Regions from separate parts of the Homo sapiens genome. Here region 2 is linked to region 1. Evidence: fine-mapped expression QTL. A gene starts in region 1. The other region holds a variant in brackets. All regions are shown on one strand. Distances are between the middles of the regions.

What was found. PIP is the estimated chance that this variant, and not a neighbour inherited with it, causes the effect. A credible set is the group of variants that fine-mapping cannot tell apart.
Region 2: its variant is the best candidate, but not a certain one, in a credible set for the expression of SYNE3 in whole blood (INTERVAL, PIP 0.66).

The regions. Positions count from the first base shown.
Region 1 is chr14:95,511,192-95,525,287 of GRCh38, reverse strand. It overlaps SYNE3 (spectrin repeat containing nuclear envelope family member 3), which reads left to right and starts at 8,638. Exons shown (of 18, transcript NM_152592.6): 1 at 8,638-8,692. It overlaps SYNE3-AS1 (SYNE3 antisense RNA 1), which reads right to left and starts at 9,168. Exons shown (of 2, transcript NR_188030.1): 1 at 9,068-9,168; 2 at 7,377-8,284. RefSeq lists a cis regulatory region at 777-1,179, enhancers at 1,202-1,496, 6,809-6,958 and silencers at 8,383-9,192, 8,942-9,236.
Region 2 is chr14:95,395,337-95,412,551 of GRCh38, reverse strand. LOC105370640 (a long non-coding RNA gene) reads left to right here and starts at 7,446. Exons shown (of 3, transcript XR_944174.3): 1 at 7,446-7,610; 2 at 13,720-13,954; 3 at 16,273-16,389. It overlaps SYNE3 (spectrin repeat containing nuclear envelope family member 3), which reads left to right. Exons shown (of 18, transcript NM_152592.6): 18 at 1-5,286. The variant C/G (reference allele first, on the strand shown) is at 11,495.

The DNA.
Region 1 (14,096 bases):
TGTGTGCCTATAGTCCTAGCTACTTGGGAGGCTGAGGTGGAAAGATAACTTTAGCCAAGGAGTTCTAGCCTGCAGTGAACTATGATAGTACCACTGCACTCCAGCCTGGGCAACAGAGCAAGGCTGTCTCTTAAAAAAAAAAAGGAAGCCACAGAGAGAGGCCAGGTAAGGACCCAGGGTCTCGTGGATTTTGCAATGGAGGTAAACACAGTGTGGGCTGATGCAATCAGTGTTTGCTGCCCTTGGGCGCTTCGCTTCACCTCTAAGGGGCTCTGCAACGTGATAGAGTTGGGCCAGTGAATTTGTCAGGTGTCTTCTGGCTGTTACTTTTGTCTGTGTGTGAACCTTTGTTTTAGGCCATTTCTGTAGTTAGTGAACAGAGCAGATAGAGTCCAGTCATTTTGCAGAAATGTTTCCATTTGGATGATGAAACAAGCTTGATTGCTGAAGCTGGTGCACTCATCCCATTGGCATGGTGCTAGCCGAGACCTTTGAAATACCTGAGGACACCTCTTGCCTGTTTATAGAGGTTGCTTCTGTCTGCTGAATAGGGCTTTGTAATTAACCAGGAGGTGCATTTAGCGACACTGGCCATTTTTCTCTGCATACCAAGTCTACAACATCAAAGAAGAAATTTAGGATGAAAGTTCTTTAAAATCTTAGGCCAGGTGCTGCAGCTATTGCCATTGCAAGGACCTGCGGCAGTCCTGTTGGAAAATGTTTGTTCTGCATGTGTTCCATGCCAGTTGTTGGCAATAAGATTCTAAGGTTTTGGAACTAGACTACTGCAATGAAACAACTTTCTCTGTTAGGGAAGTGTCCTGGGCTGTCAAGAATTATCATCAAGAGCAGCAGGTTTTATAAGATACATGGACCTATTTGGCATTTACCAGCCCATGCCGCTAGGATAGAGGGACAGGGCTGGGCCCCAAGTGTGGGCTTCCCGGAAGAGCCAAGCACCGGCTGCTCATATGGGATGGGTGGGGGTGGTGCAGGTGCCCTGCATGGGTTCCACTGCCCTAAAGAGGGTACAAAGGCCACACCTCCGTGTGTCTGCCAGGGCTGGGTTCAGAGCCTCCCTGGCTTCCTGGGCACTCTGCCTATCACACAGCGATTCCAATATGATCACATGTTCAGAACAGCCACACTTGTCAAAGCAAGGAGAGAACACTTCAGCAACGTTCAAAAACATGTCTCCAGGGATTAAAAAAAAAACACGGAAAGCTTCATTTTCCTCCCTAGTGGGGAAGTCTTCCTTACTCACAGCCTCTTCCTGAGTTGGTGTCTGTCGTGAAGCATTCTTTGGAAGCATAGTAAGCGGAGGGTTTAATTTACCATAGTCGTACACATTTGCACAGAATCTAAAGTTTGCAGTGCGTTTCATCATCTTTATGTGAATCTCATGCAGCTCTTACAGGGAAAACAGGAAGAACTGGCCCCATTTTCTAAATGTGGAGACAGGAGGAGGTGAGATGGCTCGCCTCTGCCCAGCCGACTGGGAAATGCAGAGCTCAGAGAGACAGCAAGTCAGGAGATGTTGATCCAGGGAGCTTTTCACTCTGCCACCCACCCCATCGATGGAAGCACCGACATTATCAAGGCTGCATTTAGATTTCAAAACAAAAGCAAGCAAACATGCCGGGCTCGTGGTATGCTGTTGTTTTAACCGAAATGATACAGCTGAAAGGGTGAGCAGCCATCAGTGCTGTGAGCGAAGCGTGATCACACATCTTGTATGTTTAGCAACTCAGGAGGTAGCTGAGCCTGGAAGTGACTTTCCTGGTATGTAGCAATTCAGAGAATACAAAACCACATTCATTATCTGAAATGGGCTCAGCTGCTTCTGTGTTTTATCATATAGAGCTGGGAACTTTGATGTGTGTGGTGTGTGCGTGTTTTGCTGCATATACAGATAATCACACAACTGGAGGCTTCAGCCTTGCTGTTTACACACACACACACACACACACCCCAGCAGATACATCACACACAGACTTCTCACCTGTTACGTTACTAACAGTGGTGCTGGTTTGTTTGAACAGTGTTTGAACTTATCAATAACCTTCCTCCAGAAGGCTCAGCATAGCTATAGCATATGCTGTGTGTGGAAAATATAACCTAAGAAACAGAATGGAATTGAATCATGACCACTATTGCTATGAGACAGAATCCACAGCGATGGAGTGGGTGCTGGGGTCAGACTGCCTGAGTGTGTACCCTAGGTGAGTCACATAATAGCTGGGTGAATGGCCAAGTTTTCACCTTTTTTCCCTCATTTGGAAAATGGGATGATAATAGGAGCTATCCTGAAGGGTGATGATGAGGGTTAAATTAACAATATAGGTAAAGGCTTAGAACAGTGTGTGGCAGATGGTAGGTAAGCCCTTAATAAATATAAAATATCATTATTTGTGTCCATCATTTGAGATATATCTCACATCTTATCCAGAGGACTCCCCAAACACTCGTGTTGTCACTTCTCTTTCCTGTCTCTGGGTTCCTCTACAAGTCAGTTTTGTACCATGCAGTCTCGCATTTGATGACATGCAGCATTACTTAGTTCTGTGAATGATTCGTGTGTCTTAATGTCACTTCCCCAACAGACTGTAAATTTCTTGATGGCAAGAACCATGTAACTGGTTTTTGTTAGATTTCTGCAACTCAAGACCCAATCCTGGGCAACTGTTGGACACTTAAACATCCTTCATCACTAGCTGCGTTCATCACTAGGAAAAAGTAAGAGAAATCTGATGGTATGGGATTGTAAGTGGGTATTAGATCCAACAGCTGAAACTTAAGATGTGAAGATGTATATTGACACACATGTGCGTACAAAATGTTTATAGCAGCTTTATTGATAATAGCCAAAAACCAGGAACAACCCGGATGTCCTTCAACAAGGGAAGGGTGACCCAGCCCGTGATGCATCCGTCACACTGTGGATTGCTGCTCAGCAACGAGGAGGCACAGACTCGATACGGGAGCCAGCCTGGGTGACGCTCCAGAGAACTACCCTGAGTGGAGAAGGGCAGTCCCACCGTGTGATTCCATTATTATCACATTCTTGAAATGACAGAATTATAGAAAGGAGAACAGAGGAGTGGCTGCCAGAGTTTAAGGAGGGAATGGGGAAAGGGGGAAGAGCAGCATGCGGGATCCTTGTGACGGAAGCGTTTTGTGTCGTGTGGGTGTCTGTCAGTTTCCTAGCTGTGATACTGTACCATTGTCTTGTAAGATGCTGCCATCGGTGGAAACTGGGTAAAGCATATAGGGGACCTCTCTGTATGATTTCTTACAACTGCATGTGAATTTACAGTGGTCTCAAAATAAAGCATTTAATTAAACAAAAAACCCACATGCATTTAAAGTAGTCCCAACAGAAGCAGAAAGAATAGACCAGGCTTCCCACTGTTGGGAGAAACGAGAAACATGGCAGACCTCTTCCAGAAGAATTTTGTATATTTTCTTTGTTTTCTGTTTTTGTTTTTTCTTTTCTTTTCTTTTTTTTTTTTGAGATGGAGTCTCACTTTGTCACCCAGGCTGGAGTGCCGTGGCCTGATCTCAGCTTACTGCAACCTCTGCCTCCTGGGTGCAAGCAATTCGTCTACCTCAGCCTCCTGAGTAGCTGGGATTACAGGCACCCACCACCATGCCCGACTAATTTTTTTTTGTATTTTTAGTAGAGATGGGGTTTCACCATGTTGGCCAGTCTGGTCTTGAACTCCTGACCTCAGGTGATCAACCCTCCTCGGCCTCCCAAAGTGCTGGGATTACAGGCATGAGCCACCGCACCCAGCCAGATTTTATTTTTTAGGAATAAAATTTATCAATTTTCCTTTAACACTTTTGTTTATCTTAGTATTTATTCCTTGGAGTATAATAGTAGTGGTGTTTAGTTATGTTAAATGATGATTGTTTAATACAAACAAGATCTTCTTTTTTCAAAAAGATATATAATGGAGAGAGAGAGAGACAGGGTCTCACTCTGTCACCCAGGCTGGAATGTAGTGGTGCAATCATGGCTCACTGCAGCCTTGACCTCCCAGGCCTAGGCAATCCTCCTGCCTCAGCTCCAAGTAGCTGAAACCAGGCATGCACCACCCTGCCTGGATAATTTTATTTATTTATCTGTAGAGACGGGGTCTCACCATGTTGCCCAGACTTGTCTTGAACTCCTGGGCTCAAGCGACCCTCCCACGCTGGCCTCCCAAAGTGCTGGGATTACAGGAGTGAGCCACTGTACCTGGCCAGCCAATACAATATATATATGTATGCGTGTGTGTGTATATATATATATATATATATATATATATATATACACACATACACACAATATATCATAATGTATTATGTATATTACATTACATATATTACATTGTATATAATACTGTGTGTGTGTATATATATATTTCTTATAGTTACTTAAATTGGGGGAATAATTTAGAGAAAATCTTTTTTAATTCTCTCATTTCACAGATTCAAAAACTTAGAAGTGACCCAAGGTTACACAGCTAGTTAGCAGCCTTAACAAGAGTTAGAACCCCATCATCCGAGAATCCAGTCCTGTATGTTATATATAATTGTATTTTATAAATGCAGTACAATTAAATGTATGTAGAGGAATATTCCAAGTTACTCCAGTTCCCCTGCTTGGTACTGAGATGACTCATTGCCACCCAGAGGGGTACCTCTGCTCAGTTGATGGGTGGCAGCTGCCCATGAGGAAGTGAACAAACCAGGGTGCTGGCTGTGCTCACCCTAGAAGCACATGTAGCACCCAAGTGGGAAAGGACAGGCTAACACTTGGAGAACCGGCAAGGAAAAAACAAAGAAGAAGGAAAAGTTCAGAGCAGAACTGGGTTGAGAACGAGCTCTCCAGGCTCAGACCAAGACCTCTCTGATGGGGCACCCCAGAAGTGGGCACCCTTAATGTGAGCTTTTCATCCGTATTAAGCTGAAAGCACTTATGTACTTCACCACTAAGTGGGAAGCCAGGCTAGAGATGGAGAGATGGGAATGTAAATGTTCTGAACAGCAATTCCTATCCTGGAACCCTGGGCAATGCCCCTCGTCCCTACTCTCTTGCCTCAGTTTACCCATGAGGTGTTTTATTAGCCAGAAAAGCCATTGCAGCTTTTGTTGTAATCTATCTGTGGAGACTGAACACACACACACAAACAACTGAAAAAATCATGCTTACAAAATGAGGATTGTGCAGATTGCCACTGAAGCTGGCTAACCAACAGCAAATGTGAAACAGACCCAGATAATTTCCCCAGGCTTATTAAATTGATTCCTGCTTCCCCATGAGTGGTGGTGGAGATGCTGGCTGCAGGGAAGGGACAGAGGGAAAGAGTGGTAAAAACTTCGCTTTTTGGAGGACATTTGGTACGTTGCACAAACAGCCCGCGCTGCCAAGTGAGTCAGAACTTCCGAACAGCATAATTTTAGTGCCCTTCTTGTGGTTCCCTCTCTGGGCTGCTTCTGAAAGGAAGGTCTCAGGGCGGGGTTTCCTGTGTTCAATTCCAGAGATGACAAAGGGGCTCTTCCCCCAATCCTTTGCCAGATTTTTTTTTCCAGATGGGTTTTCATGTCCACCCCCTTATGTAGCTGCAGGTAATGCTGAAGACGAAGGTATTGTGGACTTCCTAGTTGTAAACTGCCCCATCCCTTCGCATTGCTTACTCAACTTTTGTTTTCCTTCCATGTGGACTACTTTGGAGAGAAAAAGATTGGCATCAAATAAAAAATAGGGTTCTGTTTTTGATGTGATGTTTATGTCAGGCTTAAGAAAAGTAATGGATGGCCGGGCATGGTGGCTCACACCTGTAATTCCAGCACTTTGGGAGGCCAAGCAGGCAGATATCTTGAGGTCAGGAGTTCGAGACCAGCCTGGCCAACATGGTGAAATGCTGTCGCTACTAAAAATACAAAAAATTAGCTGGGTGTGGTGGTGTGTGCCTGTAGACCCAGCTATTCAAGTGGCCGAGGCACAAGAGTTGCTTGAATCTGAGAGGAGGTTGCAGTGAGTCAAGATTGCACCACTGCACTCCAACCTGGGTGACAGAGCGAGACTCTAAGAAAAGCAATGGAATGGGAGAGTATTCTGAAAAGCAGCAAGCCCTGTAAAGCCCAAGATAATAACAATCACATTGATAATAACAAAACTATCTGCACAGTATTTTGTACTTTATAAAATATGTTTATCACATGTGTTTTCACCTATGAAAAATTATTGCTATCCCCATCTAACAGATGAGAAAAACCAATGTTGTAAGAGGTCACATTCAGTGTAAGATTAGACTGTATGTGCACACTGTATGTGTAACAGAATCTTACAGTGTAAGATTCACTCAGCTAAATAAGTAGCAAAGCTGGGCCTGGAAAGTGAATATCTCCACTGCTCTGAACTGGTGCTCTGCACTGCACCGGCAGCAGGAGGGACAGTTCATCTCTGTGCACCATGGTCCCCTGACACAGAATTATTACACCCTGACCTCCTTGGAGGTAGTAGTCTATGCCTCATTCTTCTTCATATTCCCAGAGACTAGCACATAGTAGATACTCAGGAATGTTTGACGAAAGACTGAATAGCTGTATGGCAGAAACTGTAGCAATCATACCATTCCCAGAACCATAACATAACAGCTCGCCTGAGTTGGGTGCTCAAATACCAGGCACAAAACCATACAAGATAAGCTCCTATTATTAGATCTATTCAACAGAAAAGGAAACCAAGTATGAGTAATCAGCTGAAAGTTGCAAATTGGGCACTTTGGCACTAGAGCCTGAGCTCCTAACTGTACCCAACCATCTCTTCCTGCAGGACATTGAGTTACAGTGGCCAGCTCCACCCTTGGAGCAGCCTGGGGGAGCCATCTCTCTCCTTGTGCAAGTCACCTGCCCTCTTTGTGTCTTGGTTTCCCTTGTCAGGCAAAACTCATTAAACTTTTCCTAACTACCTGGAGGATGTTTGCAGAGATTTAATGAGGAGACACATTTGAAAGCATTCTGAAAAGCAAAAAGCGCGATCCAGATGCAGGCATTATAATCATTGTTACTCGCTGCCTGCACCTGCAGTTTGACTGTGGCAACCTCAAGGCCTTCGGCAGCACTTCTAATTGAGCCACAGTGATAATAACACATATAATAGCATACTTGGAACCAGTCAGTCGCAGGGAGATGGGAGGGGCCCTGTGTATATCTTCAGCAACGCTGTGAATAATTACAGCTTAATAAATGGGATCTAACTAAGAGGTGTGGGTCTACCTCAGAGTGAATCCTGGGTTTTGGCTAATTCTTCTACCTCCCTCTCAATTTGGAAAAGACATACACACACACACACACACACACACACACACACACACACCGTTAACTATCTTGTCCTGCTTTACAATTTAATCTCTTAGGATACTGACTTTTACACGGATCTGTTCTACAAACATCTGCCATCCCTGCTAAGAAACAAAAAAGGAAAACAGCATCCCGGAAGCCCTGGATTTGGGCCAGTTACTAACCCCGCATCTGTAAAATCGCTAGCCGCACCTAAACTGTGATGACTGGAGTTCACATAAAACCTAGTTTTACAACTTGTATCCTTCATTAGTAGCGCTCATCTGATCCAGAGGCGGTGAAGCCAATCATGCAACCATGTAATTACTCGGAAAAAGATAAGGGTTGGGGCCCAGGACTGTTCAAAGCTGGGCTGGATGCACAGGAAGGCCAGTGACTGCTGACCTGGGAGGAGAGCGCCAGGGTGCGAAGGCTTCCAGCCATCAAGCAGTAGGAGTTTGGCAGAAGGCTGTGGAGCAAACGCCGGGCCAAGGCAACTTCATGTGCACAGGCACAGAGGCAGATACAGTTTAGACATTCTGGGACAAGGTTAAAGGGTTGGCGTGGCTGGAGCAGGGGTTGGGAGAGTGGGAGGATGTTTCTGCTGGTGGGGAGGGAGAGGTGAGGCGCATTCTGAGGCCTTGGGTTTGTTGGGGGTTCACATTATGCCTGGGGATTCACATCCCTTGTGACTCCTGGACTGTGGGCCCGGACTGTGGGGGTGGGAGAGGACGGGCAGGGTGCCACTACCCCCCACCCCGCCCTTTCTCCCCGCGCGAGGCTGGCTGATGAGTGTCATTTTCTTCTTGGATTTCGCGCCTACGGGCGGTGTGCCCCTTCCAAGGCCCCCACCTCCGCTCTGTGAGGGCAAGATCTGCCGGTGTCCTAATCCCTTTTCCATGTCTGGGCGCACAGATCCAACTTTCCCGGAGAGGCAGCTCCGCGCCATCCCCTAGGATGAGAAGAGGGTGGGTGGCTGTGTGTGTGTCGGGGAGACAGACAGGGGCCAGGGCTCCGGGCTGCTTTCCAGGCAAGCGTGGACAGGACCCCCCCCTTAACCCCCGCCCCGGGTCCGCGACAGGGAGCGGTGAGGCTTTTCTTCGGCCCTGGTCCCCGGGGCCACGCAGGATGTCCGCCGGGCTGGGGTTGCGCACCCGGGGCCTCCGCTGAGCGCGTGCGGAGAGGGGCGCGGCCTCTCCCGCGGGGCCACCGGGCGGGTCCCGGCGGGGGCGGGGGTACTCGCGGTGTCCGGGCCCGCCCCAGCCCTGCCCCGCCCCGGAGCCGCCCGGGACGCAGGGAGGAGGGAAGGAGGCTCGGCCCCAGCTACCCGCGGCGCCGCGCTCCTCCACGCTCCGGGAGGGTAAGTGGCACGGGGCCGGGAGGCCAGGCCTGGGGCCGGGGGCCGGGGGCCGGGGGCCGGGCGGGTGGGGTCCTCAGCCCCTGGCCCAGCTCTGACACAGCCCCGGGAATCGGGGGCGCCGAAAGTCTGGGGGACCTGGGGAGGCGCGCCCGGCGCGGGGGCGGGGGCCCCGGCGTGACAGCTGCGGGCGGGCGGGTATTTTTAGTTTAAATCCAACCGTTCTGTGCTGGCTGCGAAATTCCCGAGCCTTTCCTTTCAACCCCGGGGAGCTTCGGCCGGCCCACAAGAAAAAGCCCTAAAGCCCCGGGCAGCGCGCCCCAGCGGGCCGGGTGCCTCCTCGGGGCTTCCCTCTGCCTCCCCTAGGGGCGGGCTGACCTGTCACCAAGGCTTGCGCGCGGCGGGGGCCCAATCCGCTCCTGGCGACCGCGAGCGCGCTCAGTAGTGCCTGGGAGAGCAGAGCAGGCGGCGAAGAGGGGAAGTCCAACCCCGAATGCTCAGTTTCGTTCAGACGCCTTTTGGCTATGCAAACTTGGCAAGCAGCTCAACCTCTCTGAGCCTCATTCCCACATTTCTAAAGGGGAGGGCAGTGAGGCCAGAGATGGCTTGCAGGGCCTGAGAGAGCCTCAGATGGATGTTGACTTCCCCTGGGGTCTTGGGATCTTGACCCCAAACAGCAGACCCATTGATGTGGCCCATTGGTCAACCCGGGAGCAGTGTCCTACACCGCCCAGCTGACCTCTGCTTCAAAACTGGAAGCCAGGGGCCTCCAGCCTGGGCGGGGTGATAATGAATATTTTCAGTTAACCACTTTGGCCCTGAAGCTCCAACCCTGGGCTTTCCTGGGACTCTCCCAGGTTCCTGGTCACCCCTTTCAACTCTGAAGGGTCACCCTTATCCCTGCACTGGGTGGGGGGGCTTTCTACAGCCAAGGGCTGCTAGTGGGATAGCTTGATGTGTCTTGGGGGCATGCCCCATCCCACATGAATGAGGGCATGAGGAGAATGGACCGTCCTCCCAGAAAGGAGAGCATGTCATAAAATCACTGCCATTCTGAGCTTGGCAGGACAGCGTCCTTCATCCACCAAGAGAAGCAGAAACAGGCCCAGAGAGGGGGAGTGATTTGCCCAGAGCCACACTGCCTGGCTCTCTTGAAGGGCCTGGGCTTGCCGCCTGCACTTCCAGGGCAGCCAACAGCCCATAGGAGTCAGGAGCTGGGAGGTGGGAGGGGCATATCAGTGCCAACGAGCTGTTTTGCTCAGTTTCCTGTCACTGTGCCCCAGCGGGATGCTCCAGCACATGTGGGTCTGCACATTCCTCAGGCCGGACGGTGCTCGGCAGGCTGACAGCCACAGCTGTGCCAAGCCTGCTGGCCCCAGGCGTTGTTTTCAACCAGAGAGGCCCCTCTGGGGGTGGCTGAGCGGGAAGTGGGCTGGGATGTCTTATTTCTGGAACTCGTGTCTTGCTGGGGGTCCTGAGAAGAAGGCCTGAGGATGTGTTGGTGGCACAGAGGGAAGTGGTGAGAATCCAGGCTCAGGTTTCTGCCTCCAGGTACAGTCTGGCACCTGGCTCCCTGCAGGTACACTTCAGAGTGAGTTGGAGTCCTTTCTGTCTGTCTCCATGGGAACAAGGCTCCTGCTCGGGTGCTTTGCATGCTCTCCAGCAGCCATGGACCTGGCCATGCCTGGGCAGCCCCTTTGCCTTGTGATGCAGCCTGGAGCGGGCTGCCGGGGGGCCCTGGCTTGGCGGCCCCGGGAGGCAAGACTGGGCAGGCCCAGCTCAACGTCAAAAGCACCCTGGAGCCTTTGGGAACCCACTGGGCAGCTAGGCTTCCCGCATTGTCCAGCTGTTAGGAATGGGGCAGTCAAGTTGGATTGCCTGAGTCCAGTCCTGCCTTAGCCCGTTCCTGGCTGTGTAGCCTTGGGAAAGTTGCTTCACCTTTCAGAGCTTCAGCGTCCTTCCCCGTGGAAAGGGGCTAACCATAGCACGGCAGGTGTTGCCTCGCAGGGCCTCATGAGCACTAAACGAGCTTTGCCCTGATCAGCATTTTGTATGGTGTCAGACACAGCACATGTGAGAAGGTGTCACAGTTTGAGGCGAAGGGGCCTCGTCGGGATACCTGGGTTCCCCTCTGCTCTGCCTCTGCCCCTCTTCTCCCTGCCTTGATTTCCCCTTGTCTGTCAATGGTGGGTAGTCCTGGCTCACCCCCCTCATGGTCCTCCCAGCACTGAAAGCTGGCCCTTGGCCCCAGGGAGGGCAGGAGGCTCTTGACCCCAAACAGCTGACCCATTGATGTGGCCCATTGGTCAACCCAGGAGCAGTGTCCTACACCGCCTAGCTGACCTCTGCTTCAAAACTGGAAGCCAGGGGACTCCAGCCTGGGCGGGGTGATAATGAATATTTTCAGTTAACCACTTTGGCCCTGAAGCTCCAACCCTGGGCTGCCCTGGGACTCTTTCCCAGGTTCCTGGTCACCCCTTTCAACTCTGAAGGGTTCTAGAGAAGCCTACAGAGGGACTCAAATGTGTTCGTGGGGTCTTCCAAAGCTCTTCCTGCCTCTCACCTCCTAGGATCTGGTAGTAGGCAAGGCTGTCATTGCTTGCCCATTTACAGATGAGAAGGCTGATATCCAGCGGCTGGATGTGGTACAGCCAGGATTAGAACTAAGGGCTTTTGACCTGATGCTCTTCCTGGCACCACATGGCCTATCTTAGACAATCCAAGGACAAAGTTGTACGTTCATCACTGGGAAAACAGTACTGACCGGACAGGATGCTTGTCTTCATTAAGTCATCAGTACTTGCTGGAAAAGAATATGGATTCTGAATATATATATATATATATATATATATATATATATAATCTAAGCAGCCTGACTGGACCACAAAGATAGGAACCCAGGAGCAGCAGTGTTTCCTGACCCTCCCATCCTGAAAGGAACCTTTGCTTTAGGACTTAGGGATGATGTTCTGGGGCTGAGCAGCTAGGAAGCTAGGAAGTGGACGGGGGACAAGTTTGGGAAGCTGATGCCCTAATTTTGACCTCTTGAAATACTTCCCTTTTGGGGTTGCTGCGAAGATAATTGAGGTAACTGGGGATGATGCTTTAGCAGAATGCCCGGCATGGTGCGGGCACACCATAAATAGGACTGATGGTTTTTATTATTACTAACCCTCTACTATCATTGTAACACCAGAGTGCAGCCTGGATCTCTCGCCTGGGTTTCTAGGCTGCAGACGTGGTATAGAGAATCCTAGCATCTCCATGGAGAACTGCTAAGGCAATTATAAAAGCTCAAAACACAACCAAACTAAGCAATGAGTTGTTTAGTGACACATAGCTGAGAAGTAAAATGACGACAAAAAGCAAGAAGGTGATTAGCTTAAATAAAAGCCAAGCATTACCACGCGTGCTGAGGAAAGGTGAGAGAGGATCAGGAGAGTCGGGGGGGCAGTTACAAAGGAGATCACTTTGTAGTTACTGGCTAATTACATGTATGTTTTATACATGCCTTTATACGTAGATTCTATTTCACAAAGTTAAGCTGGTTTAAAAAAGAAAAAGGCAAGGGAATGATAATGCAAAATCAAGGTGATTATCTTTGGGGAGAAGTGGGTAATTGATCAGGGAGATGTCTGTTTCACTCTCAGTGGGATCCATTATGTTCTGTTTCTTCAGTCCAGTGGTAGGCTTGTGAGTGTTATTTTTTATTTATTTTATGTATGTATTTATTTATTTTTTGAGACAGAGTCTTGCTCTGTCACCCAGGCTGGAGTGCAGTGGCCTGATCTCGGATCACTGCAAGCTCCACCTGCCGGGTTTACGCCATTCTCCTGCCTCAGCCTCCCGAGTAGCTGGGACTACAGGCGCCCACCACCACGTCCGGCTAATTTTTTGTATTTTTTTTTTTAGTAGAGACGGGGTTTCATCGTGTTAGCCAGGATGGTCTTGATCTCCTGACCTCGTGATCTGCCCACCTCAGCCTCCCAAAGTGCTAGGATTACAGGCATGAGCCACCGTGCCCAGCCTATTTATTTATTTTTTTGAGACAGAGTCTCACTCTGTTGCCCAGGCTGGAGTGCAGTGGCACAATCTCAGCTCACAGCAACCTCCACCTCCCAGGTTCAAGCCATTGTTCTGCCTCAGCCTCCTGAGTAGCTGGGATTACAGGCATGTGCCACCATGCCTGGCTAAGGGCGTTATTTTTAAATATTTTTATGCTTCATTATTTACAAATAGGAGGCGCATATATTCCATTATATATATATAATCTTACATAATACAAATGAAATTAAAAGATCATGTGGAGCATTTTCAGATGCTTTCTTAGAAAATCTGCCTCTCTCCTCAGATTCCAATGTTAATCTGGCTGGATTTAAAAAATAAAGCAAAAAATTCTGTTGTATGACACATGATTTTATGTGTCATAAATCTTTATGTAGGAGACACGATCTTTAATGTAGGAGACATGATCTCTGTCTTCCCAAATCATACAACAAGTAAGATAATAATAACACTCTATGACCTCAGATGATCAACAGGATTTTTAAAGGTCCTGGCCTAATGATTTATGCTTCTGAATCATAAAATCCTGAAATATTTGAGCTGGAAGGAACCTCAGGTCACCTGGACCAATCTACTGGTTTTATAACAAAACGAAGTGTCCTGGCCGAGGTCACACACGTAGGGAATACACTTCTCTCCAGGCTGCCACAGCTGTGTGACTCTCATGCAGACACCACCCGACAGACAGACCAGTGAGAGTCTTGGGTCACAAGGCTCCTCCTTAGGGCACTCAGGGAGAGAGACGGGAAGTATACCTGAGATTAAACTGATAGGATCATTTTATTTATTTTATTTAATTTATTTATTTATTTATTTTTTGAGAAGGAGTCTTGCTCTGTCTCCCAGGCTGGAGTGCAGTGGTGTGATCTCAGCTCACCGTAACCTCTGCCTCCCGGGTTCAAGCAGTTCTCCTGCCCCAGCCTCCTGAGTAGCTGGGACTACAGTTGCATGCCACCATGCCCAGCTAATTTTATTATTATTATTTTTTTGTATTTTTAGTAGAGACAGGGTTTCACCTTGTTGGCCAGGATGGTCTCAATCTCCTGACCTCGTGATCCACCCACCTCGGTCTCCCAAAATGCTGGGATTACAGGCGTGAGTCACCGCGCCTGGCCCAGGATCATTTTATTTTTAAAAAGTCAGAAGAGAGTTACATTTTACGATGGAACCACACATTTCTAGAACTTACATGAACAGAAACATCCTCAAAGAAAACACAGAAGCAGTGCTTAGAATCTTCTTTCCTACAGGAAGTCCTCTTAGGAAAGAGCTCCTCTCACTCATCCTATTTTTTGCAGGCGTACTTGATTCCCAAAACAATTGAGTGCTGCAGTTATGGTTA
Region 2 (17,215 bases), 110 kb after region 1:
GGGGTCTGCGGCTTTCTCTCCCCTGGTTGGTGGGCAGAAGTGCCCTGTGCCTCTTTGCATCTTAATCCAATGCAACAAGCATTCTCCAGCCTGTGCCAGGCTTTGTGCTGGGAGATTCGGGGTGAACAAAGCCCAGTCCCTGCCCTCAGGGAGCTTGCAGACGAAGAAAAGGGTTTGTGCCATTGAAGATGCCCAACGGGATTGCAGTCATTGCCCTTGACTTTGCCCATCTGCCTTTCCAGAGGGGGCAGGCCCACTGTCACAGAAACTGGAAGAGCCACACAGGGGAGACAGTGGGAGAGCTCGGAACAGGGCATGAGAGTGTCTTGCTGCCTCTTGGAGGCCACCATTGTGACTATGAACCATACCGGGCAGAGGAAGTGGGTCAAGGAGGCCAGGGCAGCTGGGCCGGGCAGGGAGAGGACCTGGGCATGGCAGAGGAGGGGAAAATAGACTGACCCAGCCTCAGGAGGTCAGAAGTGTGTTGGGCTGTGCTGGGTCACAGAACAACACAGCTTGGGAGGCTCCTGGAGGCTTCAAGGGGAGGCTTAAGGCTAAGGCTGTGGATGTTGATTGTCGTGTCCATTACTAGCCCAATTATTAGTCTGTCTTCCTGGTAAAAATGTGTGGTTGGAAATGCCAAACTGAGAAGCCCACTTTTCCCCACTGGGGATCATCTGGGTTGGCGTGTCCATGCTCAAGGATAATCTCTTGCCCTTTCCTGCCCCCTGCCTAGGATTTCTCCCCAGAGGAGAGGAGCTGAGGGACCCCCCCAGGGAGGCTGTGCCTGTGGCTGTCACCCTATGATGCCAGCGGCTTCCTTTGGATTCTGTAATCAGAGTGTTTTTCACCGGTGTCTGCAGTGATTGCCAGGAAGCCTCTGTGTCCATAGCCCAGCGGGATCCTGCCCTAATTCCCTCTCTCATGGGCACTCAGCTAATTCTCACCCCAATCTCATTGTCACCAGTCTAGGTCAGCATTGGAGGGAGGTGTGGGCAACTACAGCCCTTGCTGCTTCCAAGACAGACATCAAAATAGTTGATCACCAACCTTTCCCACTCCCCACTCTCTGACCCAATGGACCTCACAGTCCTCAAAACTACTCCAAGCTACTGCCAATCAATCATTTTCTTATGTGAGCAAAACCTGTTTGACATCCTTACACCTGTACCAGCCCTCTCAGAAAGCTCTCAATTCTGGTCTCCTTTTCTTTTTTCTTTTTTTTTTTTTGAATTTATGTTAAAATTAGGATGTTCCCAATCAAAAAATCATTTTTCCTTCATCTAGTAATTGGGTGAGACAAACTAGCCCCAGAAAGCAGACAATGGGATGAACTGCCAAGTAGGACTTTTAGGGGAGGCAAAATGGATTAGGAAATGCTAAGTTCTCTGTTGAAGGAGGATACCTGGATTCTTCAGGCTGTCAGAGTTGGAGGGCTTCCATAGACTGTCTTGTTCCAACTTTGTACCCATTTTACAGGTTAGGACTCTGAGACCTCAGCAGTTCTTGTTTGGCCAGTGAGCTCAGGGAGTTAGTTCCAGGAGTGGGGGTCGGTCTCTGCACCCACTGGATGACAGCTTGATACTGCTCAGCACTAGACAGGGTTGAGTTGGAACTCTGCTGCTGATGGGCTGTGTGACATTGGTCCAGTTCCTTACCACCTCCCCCCACCTATTGGTAAGGAGGGAAGTCAGCCCTGGAGCGTTCAGTGCTCCCTGAAATATTAGGTATCCTAGGATTGTGCGCGTGGGCTCGCATCTGGAAGAGAAATCCCTAGATTCAGCCACGAGTAACAGAATCCCTCCTCCCCCGACCAACTTTGGCTTAAACCAGTCAGAGACTTTACTTTTCTCTCCTCCTGAGAAGTCTAGATATAGGCGGTTGCTGGCATCGTCTCCTCAGGTTATGGATGTCAGAGCCAAGGCTTTGCAACTGTCCTTCCTTTATATCACAGTCACTTCATGGCCCAGGATGCTTGCTGTACCTCCAATTTTTCATCTGGGTTCCAGGTAGGAAGAAGGGGAGTGAACTAGACGAATCTGCCCTCCTCATTAGCAGCTTTCCCAGAAGCTCCACCAGCCACTTCCGTTCTCATCTCATTGGCCAGGACTGTGTCACATGTTTTCCCCCACATCTGCAAGGAGTCTGGGAACATGTGCCCCAAAAAGATGGGGGCTCTTCTAGTAAGAATGAAGGGTAGGGTGGCTTGGAGTGGCACTTCGCTGTCTCTGCTACAATTGGAGGAGAAAACCAGAGTTTGTCCTGACCCTCCATGCCTTGGCTGTATGCTCCTTGTGTGGAACTCGAAGGCATCATCCTTGCAGTGTGAGAGTGACCTGCCACCACGGCCTGCCACCTCCTCTCAGGGGACCCTGAGTCCTTCAGGTCTACCCAAAGGCATTGTAGACATTCTTCCTGCAAGGCTTGGGAACCGACAAATAGATCTGCCCAGCTTGCCAGAGTTTTTGTGCAGGAACAGCCCCTCCCGTCTTTGTCCTGGCGGTGAGCACCCAGGGCTAAGCTTTTGAACACTTTCTTTGTGTTTGGATTCAGCCCAGGCAATGCATATTTGCTTTCATTTCTTCTTGAGCTTGAGGAGCTCCTGGGTGCAAATCTTGGAAAATGAGGATCTCTGAGCCTTTCCAGGCCAGCTCTTTGTTTTGTAGCAGACAATTGAGGCTTTGAAAAGGAAAGTGGGTGGGGGCACCCCACAGGTGGCCCTCATCACCCAATTGCCAGTGCCTGCAGGCTGCTTCAGCAGAGGCCCAGAGTCAAAGAGGACTTAAAACCAGCTGTCGTTTCTCCCTTAGCTTCTGTGTATGAGAGAAACGACTTCTGTTTTTCAAAGTAAGAACAAGGAGGAATTTGTTTCTAAAAGAACATTAAAACACAGGCTCGTGGTCTAAAAGCAAATGGTTCAGCAGGATGTTCAGGGCCTTAAAGCACAGTCAGCAGGACTCAGCATCTCCCAGCACCTGCTCTCCGGTTGTCATGGTAACATCATCCCCAACCCAACCACCTTGTCCAGCCGAGAGACAGCAATCATAAGGAGGGACCTCGGTTTCCCCCGAGGATCCTGGGCTTCCTTTCTGAAACGCTTGCTTCTGAGCTCAGCAACCAGGAACACCAGGCCAGCCCATCCCCAGCACCTCTGTGGAGATGAGGGACAAAGTCCTACAGTCCCTCTTCCTGTTCTGATGAGAAAGGGAGGGAAGAAAACATACCCCGAGCGCCTGCAATATGGTCATGACACTTTCAAAAAGCCTGTGCTATGGAGTCATGATCAGAAACCAGAGTGTGGAGAGGGTCAGCAGCCTGCCTCAGAGCAGCCAGCTAGGCGGGGAGTGGTAAATTTGGGACTTGTACCCAGGCATGACTGGCTCCGAGCCCAGTGCTCCACTCTATGGAATGTTCCCTGGGCCTCAGTTGCTTTCCTTTCCTTTGCAGGCCGCGGGCTGCTGCCACTCTGGCAGCTGGTGAGTTAGCTGGAGGGCAACATTCCAAAGCAGGGGCAGCATGCTGCTTTCCTCCTGTGCCCACTCCTGCGGGGAAGTCCGTTGACTCCCACCGCTGAAGGGAGCTGGCAACACCAGGATGAGGTCCCAGGGGACGGGAGCAGGTACCCACTGTCTGTCTACCTTCCCACTGGAAAAGCACGGACAGGCCAGCCCTTGCGGGGGCAGGCAGAGGACAGAGTTGGCTTTGCGCGGTCTCTGCCTGCTGAGCAGTTCCAATTCCTCTCATGGGAGAAACAAGGAGGCAGTCGCTTGTGCATGTTCCAGAAGTTTTACTGGGGAGGAGGAAGCGGACAGAGGAAGCTGTGTGTGCATGTGAAGGGGTGGGCAGGGTGGGAGGGATGCACGCGTATGTGAGCATAGCATGTGTGAGTACTACACACATCTCCATGCAGAAGCACAACTGGGCAGCCCTGGCTTCCAGCTCTGGGCTTCAGCACAACAGACACCAGCCTGTGGTCTCTCAGAAGCCAGGGAGACCACATCGGGCTCAGGACGTTTTACCCAAAGTCCAGAGTTTTTATGCCTCTCCCTGGCATTCTCCATAAAGAAGGGAAGGTCAGATGACCCCTTAGATCTGTGTCATCTGGGAATTTCCTTGGGCTGGTTTAGACACGATGCCCTCTTTTTCTCAGGATAGCAGATAACCTGCTTTGAAAGAGGGCTTAATTCTGTGGGTCCTAAATTTTCTCCTTTCTCTCTCTCTTTCTGTGTGTGTGTGTTGGGAAAATGGCAAGTTTCCAATACCAGCTTTGGAGGAACGATTACGTTTTCCCTCCAATTTCAAGTCCGAAAGACCAGAGCCCTCATTCCAAAGCCCCCCACCCAGATGGATTTTTTCGTTTCATTTGTCATCCGTCCCATGGGAGGGCCCCATGTCTCCTCAGAACCCATCCTGGAGGCAGCAGGTCGGGTAGAGTGAGTTTGGCCTGCTCATGACCTCCACCCCTGAGATTGTGAACAAGGATGTCTGGGGCGATGCTGAGAATGTTTTTGAAGCTGCTCCCAGATGACGCTGATGATCACACCAGATTGAGTGCTGCGATCGCCTTGAGTCCAACCTCTGCATAAACGAGGTTCTCATAAACAAGTTCACTCTACCCTAAGCTAAGTCTATGTGAGCAAACCCACTTCATCCTTTGTACCTGGAGACCTGGTTACACTAACCTGATACTGACCTGTTCATGTAGCTGGAATGGTGTGTTTCATGCAGTGTGGACCAAGCAATGGCATGGGGTGTGTGTGTGTGTGTGTGTGTGTCTGTGTGTGTGTGTTTGTGTATGCGTTCACACTTGTGTGTGTATATGTGCATGTAGATGCTGCATAAATGATTTTTGATGTCAAAGACAAACACATTCCATTGTTTTAAATATTCTATTATGTAAACAATACGCAGAGGGACCATATCTACTCTTGTCATATTATTTGTGATGGTAAAACATGCATTTGCAATAAATTAAGCTTTCTGGGAAGGCAAGCAGTATTGGAGCCAAACGACTGTCTCGGAACATGTGTGTGTTATCTCGGTTCATATCAAGTCCAAAGCTAATGGAGCCTTCCCCGCCATCCAGGGAGGAACACCAGGACCCCGGAGTTTCTTCTTAGTGCTATATTTTAAAGTTGCATTGACGTTTTCCTCCCCTTCCTTTTGTGCAAGTTGGAAGTAGCAGTGTTCTAAAAGATGGTTTGACGTTTTTGCTGTTGTTTTATGTTTTTAAAAATGTATCTGCTTTGTGTTTGGAAATAAAAATCTCTATTTTGGTCTATGAAATACTGTGTGGTTTGGAAATTCGTTTTCTGAAGTAAAGGAGTTTGTCCAAGAGGTTATGAGAAGAAAGATGACATGTGGCTAAGGCTGACATTGTAAAATTCTGACTTCCAGTTCAACCTCTTTCATGCAGAGGTTGAACTCAGGGCGACAGCAACACTCAATCTCATGTGGATATCAGCCTCATCTGGGAGCATCTTCAAACACATTCTCAGCATCTCTCCAGACCTCCTCGTTCACAGTCTCAGGGGTGGGGGTCATGGGCAGGCCAAGTGGATACTGAGAATTCCAAAATGCACTCTGGGTGCATTTGGTAGAGAAACAGCACCCCCAGTAGATCCAGGCACTAGCCCAGATAGAGGTAAAAGGACGCCTTTCCAACCATTTCACTCCCAACCCCAGGGATCAAAGCCCCACCAGGACAGTTTATTTCACAAAGAATTCTTGGGTTTGGCTATCTGGTTTCGTAACTCACAGTGCACTGGAAGCTGCAGAGGAGAAGGGGAGGACACTGCGAGATGCAGGAGAAGCCAGAGACACCATCCTGACTTTTGAGGGCAGGTCTAAGAAACCGGCAAGTAAACCCAGGAGCTGCCACAGGCTAACAAAAGCTCCTAACAAGGACCTTGGTTTGCCAAGAAAAGGAAAATGTATGTCAGAATCTTCTGCTTACCAAGGAACAGAAGTGTACCCTTCAATTCAGAACACTGTCATTAGAAGGATTTAAAATAAAATGGTTTTGCCTCTAGTATAATTTGTTCTCCCAAGTGAGAACTTTTAAAAAATTTGCTATTATTTTAATAATGTGTGTAATACGTTTCCTAAGTTTTTTCCATCTCTGTGATCTTAAACCCTTCTCACCCTTTGGGAGGTGAGGCGGGATAGGGGGTGGGGGGACTTGAGTGAGAAGCATTATATCTGTAGCCCCTCACTCCTTACATGACTGGTAAAGGAAGAGACAAAGTTTTAGTCTCCATATGAATCCAAGTGGAGTCCAGAGCCGTGCATGAGACTTTGAACTGTTGGTGCAAAAGTTGTTACAGGCTGGAAGCGGTGGCTCATGCTTGTAATCCCAGCACTTTGGGAGGTTGAGGTGGGCAAATCATTTGAGGTCAAGAGTTCAAGACTAGCCTGACCAATATGGTGAAACCCTGCCTCTACTAAAAATGCAAAAAAAAAAAAAAATAGTCAGGTGTGGCAGTGCACACCTGTCGTCCCAGCTACTTGAGAAGCTGAGGCAGGAGAATCGCTTGAACCTGGGAGGTGGAGGTTGCAGTGAGCCAAGATCACGCCACTGCACTCCAGCCTGGGCGACAGAGTGAGACTCCATTTCAAAAATAATAATAATAATTATGGTTTTTGCCATCAAAAGTAATAGATTTGGATCTGGTTCAGTGGTGCATGCCCTAGAGTTAAATGTCATTCAAATGAGTCTCTGAGTTTTTGACTTGGTGAAGCAGTTCTGCAGAGAAAGGGCAAAGGGTGGGAAAGTCTGTTCTTTTAGGAAGGAGGAGCGGTCCTTGGTTTTTCCATCTGCCTTGTTTAGGGCAGATGAAGCCAGGTTGCCAGCACTCCTATAGAGGACCCTGCAAATGGAAGAATCACTTTCCACTATCAGGCCGCAGCAAGACCACTGCTGGCTACAAGGAGTTTACAACTGAGGGAGGTGATTTCACCCAGCATATCGGGATCCATTGTCTAAAGTCTTAGAGTGGTGCTAAGTACCCTCACAGAAACACTTGTGAGTCTTGTGGCCCCGAATAACAAGAACCCTTACCTTCTAAGTAGTTGTCCAAAAAATAAAGCAGCATGCTTTTTGAAGAAAGACAGAACTCTGTCCACGGGGATGCTCTGCCTTTTAGGTCTATATGGAATTGATCACGGCATAGCCCTGTTTAGCTGATCTGAAGAAGCCTTAATCCGTATAACATAAAGGTATGCCACGTGTCATTTATGTTAACTAAACGTGGTATACATGTTTATTTCCACAGCAGAAGCATCAAACCTGGGGTCAGGAACTTCAGGGTTAAAACGCTGTTTCAGTGAGAAAACTAGATTTACCCTTCCTTGTTTTAATTTAGCACCTTTTGTGGGAACCCAGCCCACTGTGAGAGTAGCATTAAACACACACGGTTTCTAAATCTTTACTGAGTTCTCTAGTGTTTCTGGCTGGACGACTCATTCATTTTTATGACCGTGTGATTTTTTTCACAACCAGGCGTCCCATGGAAATAATTATCTTACCTCAGTTTTCATCCACGGCTTCCAAGCCCAACCATGACATGGTTAATTGGAGAGATCCATCACCTTCTCGTGGAATCCTCTTGGTGAGAATGTTACTCAGCTACTTGGCCCTGCCAGCCTCCTCTGTCACTGCCTCTGCAGCCCTGGCTCTCCGTCCTGCTACCTTTCATTATGCTGCAAAAGGAGAGACCCCAACTTGCTCAGGGCTTCCGGGCTGGAATTCCGTATTGCAGTTGCATACTGGCGTGCATCCTGGTCCCTGCTCCCCGCTCCAGCTTGGTTTTCACTGTGGCCTGCTGCTGCTAATTTCTAATAGGAGGGCTCCTCTACCAATGGACAGCGAGGGAAATTGCTCTAAATTGTTCTGAGACATGGCCTGTCTCATGCTATCTGTTTCCTCTCTTTGGGCTTGTGCAAATCACTGAGGCCCTTTTCCTTTGGAATGAGGTGATGGGATAACAAAAAGTAAAAAGCAACAAACCACAATGCTGAATGCAATGTGGAATCCTGCATTGCATCCTGGAACAGTGAACAGGCATTAGTGGAAAGGCCAATGATACACAGATCAAGTTAGCAGTTTCATTAACGCTATTGCACTGGTGTTAATTTCTTGGTGTTGACAAATTCCCCATGGACATGTAAGATGTTACCGTTAGAGGAGACTGGGTGTGTTTGTCTATTTTTGTGTAGCTATAAAGAAATACCTGGAGCTGGATATTTATAAAGAAAGGAGGTTTAATTGGTTCACAGTTCTGCAGGCTGAACGGGAAACATGGTGCTGGCATCCACTTCTGGTGAGGTTCTAAGGAAGCCTACAATCATGGCAGAAGGTGACAGGGAGCCAGCATGTCATATGGCCAGAGTAGGATCAAGAGAGAGAGGGAGAAAAGTACCACACTCTGTTAAACAACCCGATCTCTGTGAGCAAGCATTCACTTATCACCAGGGGGATGATGGCGCTAAGCCACTCATGAGCAATCTCCCCCGTGATCCAATACCTCCCACCAGGCCCCACCTCCAGCACTGGGGATTCCATGAAATCTGGAAGGACAAACATCCAGAGTGTATCACTGGGTGAAGGTTATGGGAACTTTGTGCTGTTTTTGCACCTTTTCTAAATGATTCCAAATAAAAATTTTATTTATTTTTTTTTGAGACGGAGTCTCACTCTGTCGCCCAGGCTGGAGTGCAATGGCGCCATCTCAGCTCACTGCAAGCTCCACCTCCCGGGTTCACTCCGTTCTCCTGCCTCAGCCTCCTGAGTAGCTGGGACTACAGGCGCCCGCCACCACACCCAGCTAATTTTTTGTATTTTTAGTAGAGACGGGGTTTTACCATGTTAGCCAGGATGGTCTCGATCTCCTGACCTCGTGATCCACCCGCCTTGGCCTCCCAAAGTGCTGGGATTACAGGCGTAAGCCACTGCGCCTGGCCAAAAATTTTATTTATTGTTTGTTCCATTTTATTTCATTTCTATTTTCATTAGAATGAAATGAATAGAATCTTATCAATAATCTGTTTTGCCAATCTAGTAAATGAAAAGATCTGAATTTTTAAAAGCATTGAACATTTCAAAAACTGATTTTGCAGTTTTTAATGATATCTTTATAATCAAGAAATAGTAAAAAGTTACATGCTAAATAATGGCATGTTCCAAAACAGATTAGTCTTCCCTTCCAAGTGGCAAATTCAGCAGTATTTAGGACAAGCACTGTATGATTTGAACACTAGAAAAATGTCTATTTCCTTCTTTTTTCATCAGCTTACATATTTTCTTTCTTTCCACACTTAAAATTCTTTTCTTTTAATGGACAAATAGTAATGTTATATATTCATGGGGTACACAGTGATGTTTTGATACATATAATGTAAGTGATCAGATCAGGGTAATTAGCATATCCAGCATCTCAAACATTTATCATTTCTTTGTTTTGGGAACATTCAGCATCCTTCTTCTAGCTATTTGAAACTATATACTGTTGTTAACTATAGTCAGCCTACAGTGGTGTAATATTCTAGAACTTATTTATCCTATCTAGCTGTAATTTGTATCATTTAACAAGTCTCTCCCTATGCTTCCTTCCTCCTACTCTCCCTAGCTTCTAGTATCCCATTTTACTTTTTACTTCTATGAGATCAACTTTTTTTAGCTATCACATATGAGTGAGAACATGTGGTGTTTAACTTTCTGTTCCTGGCTTATTTTGCTTAACATAATGTCCTCTAGTTCTATCCGTGTTGCCACGAATGACGAGATTTCTCTTTTTTTAATGGCTGAATGGTATTCCATTGTGTATATATCCCATATTTTTTACATCCATCTGTTGTTGGACACCTACGTTGATCCCATATCGTGGCTATTGTGAACAGTGCTGCAATAAACATGAAGGTGCAGATGTCTCTTCAATATAATGATTTCCTTTCCTTTGGATAAATTCCCAGTAGTAAGATCACTAAAAATTTTATTTTTAAAAATATGATTTTTTATGGCCCTGGAAAAAAAATGTGAAGTTTCTCTTTTGCTCTTAACTTACTCCCTTAAAAGTGACGGTGAAACTGTTCTAGGAACAGGCTTGGAATCATCCTGATCAGTGTTTGGCTCCAAGCAACCAAATCTGCAAGGCATTGGACCTTAACAAAGTTCTCCCATCTTCTGGAATACTTATCTCAAAGGAATGTGGTTGGGCGGATTAAATGGGATAGTATGTGTAAAGGGCTTTCACAGTGCTCAGCCCATAGGACACACTCCATAACTGGAAGCTATTTATACCACCCCATCCCAAATGCCTTCCTGGGTCATGCTAGGCAGGTTCTGAAGAAGTATCTTCTTTTACATTCTCTAGGATGCATACTCTGACCCCAAAGTACTGCCCTGCAACTACTGCCAGGAGTCCGGGATCTCCCTTATGGGCTTACAAGTGTCCTGAAGATGCTTGTTAAGGGGAGAGTCTAGAATCAGTCAGCAGTCAGTTGCAAAAAACAGAATCCACTCTAACTAGCTTAAGGAGAAAGGGATTTATGATGGGGTATAAAATGGCTCACAAAATTGTTGAAGAACAGACTCTAATCTGAGATTTCAGGAGGAGCTCAGCCTCAGGACCATGCTGCCTCTTTCATGGTGGAGAAAGTTGCTGCTGCTGCCCCGCAGGAGGCTGCCAGACAGGGAGAATACTGCAGCTGCGGACTAAAGGCCTCGCCTCCGTTGCACTGCAGCAAAGGGGTGCCCATGTCAAGCTGTCTCCTCATGCACCTCCCTCCCACACTCAGCATCATGAAGGAGAGTTGGAATTGGAAAAACCTGGTTCACATTTAGAACACAGCAGCAAAGGAGGCAGGGATATGCCATGTTATTTATTTTTTTAAAAAAATGATTTTTTTTTTAGAGACAGTCTCCCTATGTTGCCCAGGCTGATCTCGAACTCCTATCTCGGCCTCCCAAAGTGCTAGGATTCCAGATGTGAGCCACCACACTCGGCCAATGCCATTTTAGCTTTACCCTTCTGCATTATGGGAAAACATCTTGCAAGGAGTTTAATGGGCAATTAATAAGCAAATCTACAGTATCCCCCACGGCCCATGCCTCTGGATACTTCATGTCCCGGTGTACCCCAATTTCCATATTTAAACTTCCAAGCAAAAACAGCAGTGGAAACAATAGCTCCCATATTCCACCTAATGCACCTACCCCCGTATGAGCAAGTGAGTGCTTAGCAAAACGTCCCATTTATCAATATATCCATTTCTGTGCTCTGTTAGTTTTCCTCTGGTTCATTCACAATTTTACTTGATGTCCTGAAGTCTGTGAACTAAATTATGAGGTTAGCTGTCGCATCCCTGCCACCAGGCCTGCTTGTTCATGGGCAACTGAACTGACATCCAGTGATGTCTGGACACCTGATTATCAAGAGCCTTCTCTCCACAGATGGACTTTTGATGATCATTCAAACAGTACATACATATCGTTATA[C/G]CCAAGATCTCGCTGAAAGGGCTACCCATATATATTTTCCTCAAACTTCCATGTTATCAATCCCCATTCTTGTCCTTTTCGAGCCCTTGACCATCCTTAAGGAAAGAATCAAGTAAAGAATATTTAAATAAAAAATATCACTGAGCTCTTTTTTTTTTTTTAATTTTTTTTGAGATGGAGTCTCACTCTGTTGCCCAGGCTGGAGTGCAGTGGCGCGATCTCGGCTCACTGCAACCTCCACCTCCCAGGTTAAAGCGCTTCTTCTGCTTCAGCCTCCCGAGTAGCTGGGAACTACAGGCGGGTGCCACCACACCCAACTAATTTTTGTATTTTTAGTAGAGACACGGTTTCACCATATTGGCCAGGCTGGTCTCGAACTCCTGACCTTGTGATCCACCCCCCACCCCCCCACACCCGGCCTCCCAAAGTGTTGGGATTACAGGTGTGAGCCACCTCACCTGGACTATTAAGCTCTTATTATACATCAAGAATAAATAAAATGGTGAACAAAACAGAAACCCCCAAACCCTGCCTTCCTGGAGCTTACTCTCTGGTGCTGGGTACTGCCCATTCTTCTGTGTAGATCTGTACTCTCAGTCATTTCTCCTTCTAGGCAAAATGAACTACTAAATACACATTTCAAAGACAGTGGGGGACGTTCCTTCCCCATTGTCTTTCATCAGCAGCCTTCACGGGGGCTGTAATCCTATAGCATTATACATCTGACTAGTTGCATTATATCAGGCAAGGTCAACTAGGCTCAAATACTTTTTTTTTTTTTTTTTGGAGACAGAGTCTCACTCTGTCACCCAGGCTGGAGTGCAGTGGTGCGATCTCAGCTCACTGCAACCTCCGCCTCCCAAGTTCAAGCGATTCTCCTGCCTCAGCCTCCAAAGTAGCTGGGACTACGGGCACCTGCCACCACGCCCGGCTAATATTTTGAATTTTTAGTAGAGATGGGGTTTCGCCACGTTGGCCAGGCTGGTCTTGAACTCCTGACCTCAAGTGATCCGCCTGCTTGGCCTCCCAAAGTGCTGGGGTTACAGGTGTGAGTCACCATGCCTGGGCTCAAATTCTTTATTCTGATGCCAAGTGAAGCTGTGAATGCCAAGTGGATGCCAAGTGAAGCTGTGGGGTGGGCTGAGGGTTAGGGGTTTTGCAGCAGAAGTAGTCATCCTGGGGGCTGTGGACCATTGGTAAGGCCTGCATGTTTATTTCCCCCAACTCCCAATTCATACGTTGAAATGCTAACCCGCAAGGTGATGGTATTAGGAGGTGAGGCCTCTGGAGGGTGATTAGGTCATGATGGTGGAGCTGTCATGCATGGGATTATTAAAATGACCCCAGAGGGAGAGCTTGCCCCTTCAACCATGTGAGGACACAGCAAGAAGGCACCATCTATGAACCAGGAAACGTGCCCTCACCAGACACCGAAACTGCTTGTGCCTTGATCTTTGACTTCCCAGCCTCCAGAACATGAGAAATAAATTTCTGTTGTCTATCAGCCACCTAGGCTATGATATTTTGTTATAACAGCCCAAATGGACTAAAACACCCACATACACATGCAGCTCACAAAATGACCAAATAAGACACTGGGCAAAGATTTCAGGCCTGGGCATTCATTCAGCAAGTGGACCATGGCACTGAGGACAGGCAGTGTGAGGTTACCACCCATGAGAAAACTGGACAAGCATCTGCCGAGGTCCCTCCAGCCTACAGGGCTCCTGCTCCCCTGAGCACTGCTCCTGCTATGGAGTTCTTCTCCGTTGCCTCATTTTGGACCATCCTGGAAAATGGACCCTCTCTCTGACCACAGTCTGTGATTGAGCGCCATACACCTGGGATTCCAACCCCCAATCTCTGCAGGCCAGTTTGTGACCTCAGCTCCGCACTTCTCACACAACACCGCCATGGCTCTTTGTTTGCTGCCTGTTCTGTGCTCTCGGCTGCTGGCACTGACCTTCTTGTGTTTGCTCCTGTTTGGGGTTTCGTAAGTTCAGATTTGTCTACTTGTTTGTTTTGATTCTCAGCGCCTCGGACAGGAGTAGACCTGTGGGTCAAATCTAGCTGCCACTAGTTTTCACACAGTTCAAGGAGTAAGAATGGTTTTTAAATTTTTAAGTGGGTTACATTTTACATGGTTATGTAAGTACCAACAAAATAGCTTTAATTTTGCCTCTTGCGCTACAAAGTCCTAAAATATTTACTCTGGTCCTTCACAGAAGCGTTTGTCAACTCATGCTCAAGGACATCGCTCGTGCAGTTTCCCACCTGATTAATCCATGTAGCCAAGCTGTCCATCCCCAAATCCCAGCAAGGTCCTTCCCTATGACCAGCTCCCCAGCAGGCTGGCTGTGACCTCCCTGAAGGGGTCCAGGGAGAAAGCACACTGGCCGGGGAGGCAGGAGAAATCGGTTCCAGCCTCGCACTCATCACCAACTTGCTTTGTGACTTTTGGTAAGTCCCATTCCCTCTCTGTACCTCAGATCCCTCTCTGTCAAACGGGGAGTTTCGATGTGAATCACCTTGGAAATCTCTCACAGCACTGCCAGTCCTCGCCAAACCATTGTTCTCCATAACCATGAGGAACATGGGAGAGAACAAGGCATGGGACTGTCCCAGGGACCCCAGGATCGAGCCCACGATCAATTCTTCATCCTAGGGCATGGGTGACAGGTCACGCGGGCACACAGACACACATGCTATACACTGTAGACACGTGCACGCACCTGAGTGCCTATGCACACACACCCCTTATTCATGCACCACACACACAGAGGCACACATAGACACAGACACACTCCACACACACACACCTACACATACACCACATAACTGTGTGCAAGTACACGCACCACACACAACCATGCACCACACACAGAGGCACACACGGACACGGACACACTCCATACACACACACACACACACGTACACATACACTACACACCTGTGTGCAAGTACATGCACCACAAACAACCATGCACCACACACAACCATGCACCACACAGAGGCACATATAGACCTAGACACACTCCATACATACACACACTTGCACACATACAATCACACACACCATGCATACACACACATGCCACACAGACAAAACACACACCACACACAGATATATGCACACATGCCAAACACACCCACCACACCACATACAGGCATACACACATGGATGCACCACATACAGACACACACATACACATCATAGACACATGCACATGCTTGCACATACCCCCCACCTGCATACATGTGTGTACACACCCCCCCACACACCAAACACACACAGATGCACACATACACTACACATACAGATACACTACATACCACACACAGACACCACAGAGGCACATATGGATACAGATAGAGACAGTCAACATACACAATTGCCAGACATGCAAGCCATATACACAGGTGCGCACCCACACCACACACACAGAGACCTACATAGACACAGGCACATGGTGCTCTGGGCAAAGTGTTGTGACCGTGTCTCACGGCTTGTCAGGTTGGGAGCCGTAGCAGAGCTCTGGGGGTACATCCCTGGGGGATCCCTCCTCGACTCTGGTCTGATTAAGTCAGCTCTGCAGAAACCAGAAAATTAAATTTGGGGCCATGTCTGTCTTCCGGATATGGTGCATAATTTCAGGATTACTCTGGGTAAAGAAAAGAGAAAGGGCTCTTTTCTTTTTTTAGGGTTTGGAAAGGAAAACATGGTTGTGTGGGCTAACGTGTATTGCTGGGCGAGGTCTTCAGGGGTATGGTTCGGAGCCATGAGGGAGGCGTCTGTGCAAGCAGCAAGCCTTCCTTTTTGGGGCCAGGTAGGGGGTCGGTAATGCAGAGGTTATAAAGAAAGAGATTGCATTTGATTAATGAAATATTTTCTTACAATCATGTTTTTGCTGAAATGCATGTTCAACCCTGACCAAAGGCCAGGGAAGCCAAATGCAAAACATACAGTGTGCGGTTGCCAGAATATCTCCCAAGCTACATTTTAATATATGTCAAAATTCAAATTTACCCTGGAGTCAAGGAAGTCAGAGAGGGAGACCTTTGCCTTATGGGTACTGCATACCATGCCTAATAAAATGATAATGCAACCTTCACAGTTTGCTAGGCACTTCCACCCACAGTCTTTCATTTGATTCTTACAATAATGTCAAATGCTTTTTCGTCTCTTCCACTGAAGAGTAAAACAAGGCTGAGAGAGGTAGAAAGGTGACCCCAAGATCATAGCCTGAAAATGGCCTTGCTGCCGTCCAGCCCTGCCCTCCAGTGATCTCTTGTTCCAAACCTGCAACACAGCAACGAAGCAAACCCACTGTTTATGTCTCCTCATTTGCAATCCCAAAACTATCAAGAGCAGATGAGAGCAAGCCCTTAAGGTTAATAGAGCAGAGTTAGGGAACCCTGAGCAAAATCTCTTATCCCTGAGGTACCTGATTGGTTATCTGAATGGCTGCCAACACAGAGCACTGTGTTAAGAGGGATTCTGAGGCTGTGATCAAGGAAAGAACTGCATGATCTCTTGGTGATATCTCCCATGACCGTCGTAGGGAGGGGCTTATTGTCATCTTCACTTTGGCCTCAGTTTCATTATCTATAAAGGGGAAGGAATTGCTCTCAATCTGGGTCTGTGAACTAACATGCCTACAGAACCCAAACAGGAAACATCTGAGCAGACCAGATGTATTAGTTTGTTCTCGCACTGCTATAAAGAACTACCTGAGACTGGGTAATTTATAAAGAAGAGAGGTTTAATTCTCTCACAGGTTCTACAAGCTCTACAGGAAGCGTGGATTGGGAGGCCTCAGGAAACTTACAATCATGGCAGAAGGTGAGGAAGAAGCAGGCACGACTTACGTAGCTGAAGCAGGAGGAAGACAGCGAGCCTCTGCTACACACTTTTAAACAAGCAGCTCTCATGAGAACTCACTATCACAAGAACAGCAAGGGTGAAGTTTGCCCCCATGATCCAGTCACCTCCCACCAGGCCCCTCCTCCAACATTGGGGATTACAATTCGACATGAGATTTGGGCAGGGAAACAAATCCAAACCACATCCCCAGACCAAGTGTAAAAACATCCTGAAAGAGGGAAGGTTGGGATCTTTGTCCAATCATTGCCATGTGGGGATGTGGGCTTTGGATTAGAGTGACAGTTTCTCAATCATTCAAGATTTCACATTATAATGTTAAAAAAATTTTTTAGGTGGCAACTAATTTGAATATTGTTAAAAAATACCTGTGCTAACATGCGTGTGTACGCATGTGCTGTCAGGCTGGGTGTGGCCCACGGACCATTGCTTTTCAAGCTTTGGTTTAAATAGTCCCCAAGATTCCTTTCATTTCAAAAATTCTAAAATTCTGTGTGGGATGCAGGTCCACAGACTAGGTGCATGTGAAATGTTTCTCAATAGATCTAGAGTTCTAAACTCAGTCCCTCACCCACGTGGGCCGAGATTAGTTTGAGCACCTGCTGTGTGCCTATTGGGCTTCTACAGACATTGTCTCACTCAGGCTTCATGACTAGTCCAGCTGGCTCTTCTCCCTTATTTTGCAGCTGAAGACACAGGCTCAGAGAGATGACTAATTTATCCAAGGTTGCCCAGCACATAACCAAACTGAAATTTACTCCTTGGTGATTTCTCAAGATTTTGGTTTCATGATGGAAATCCCATGACATAATCAGCACTCGGTGGAAACTCAATGATAA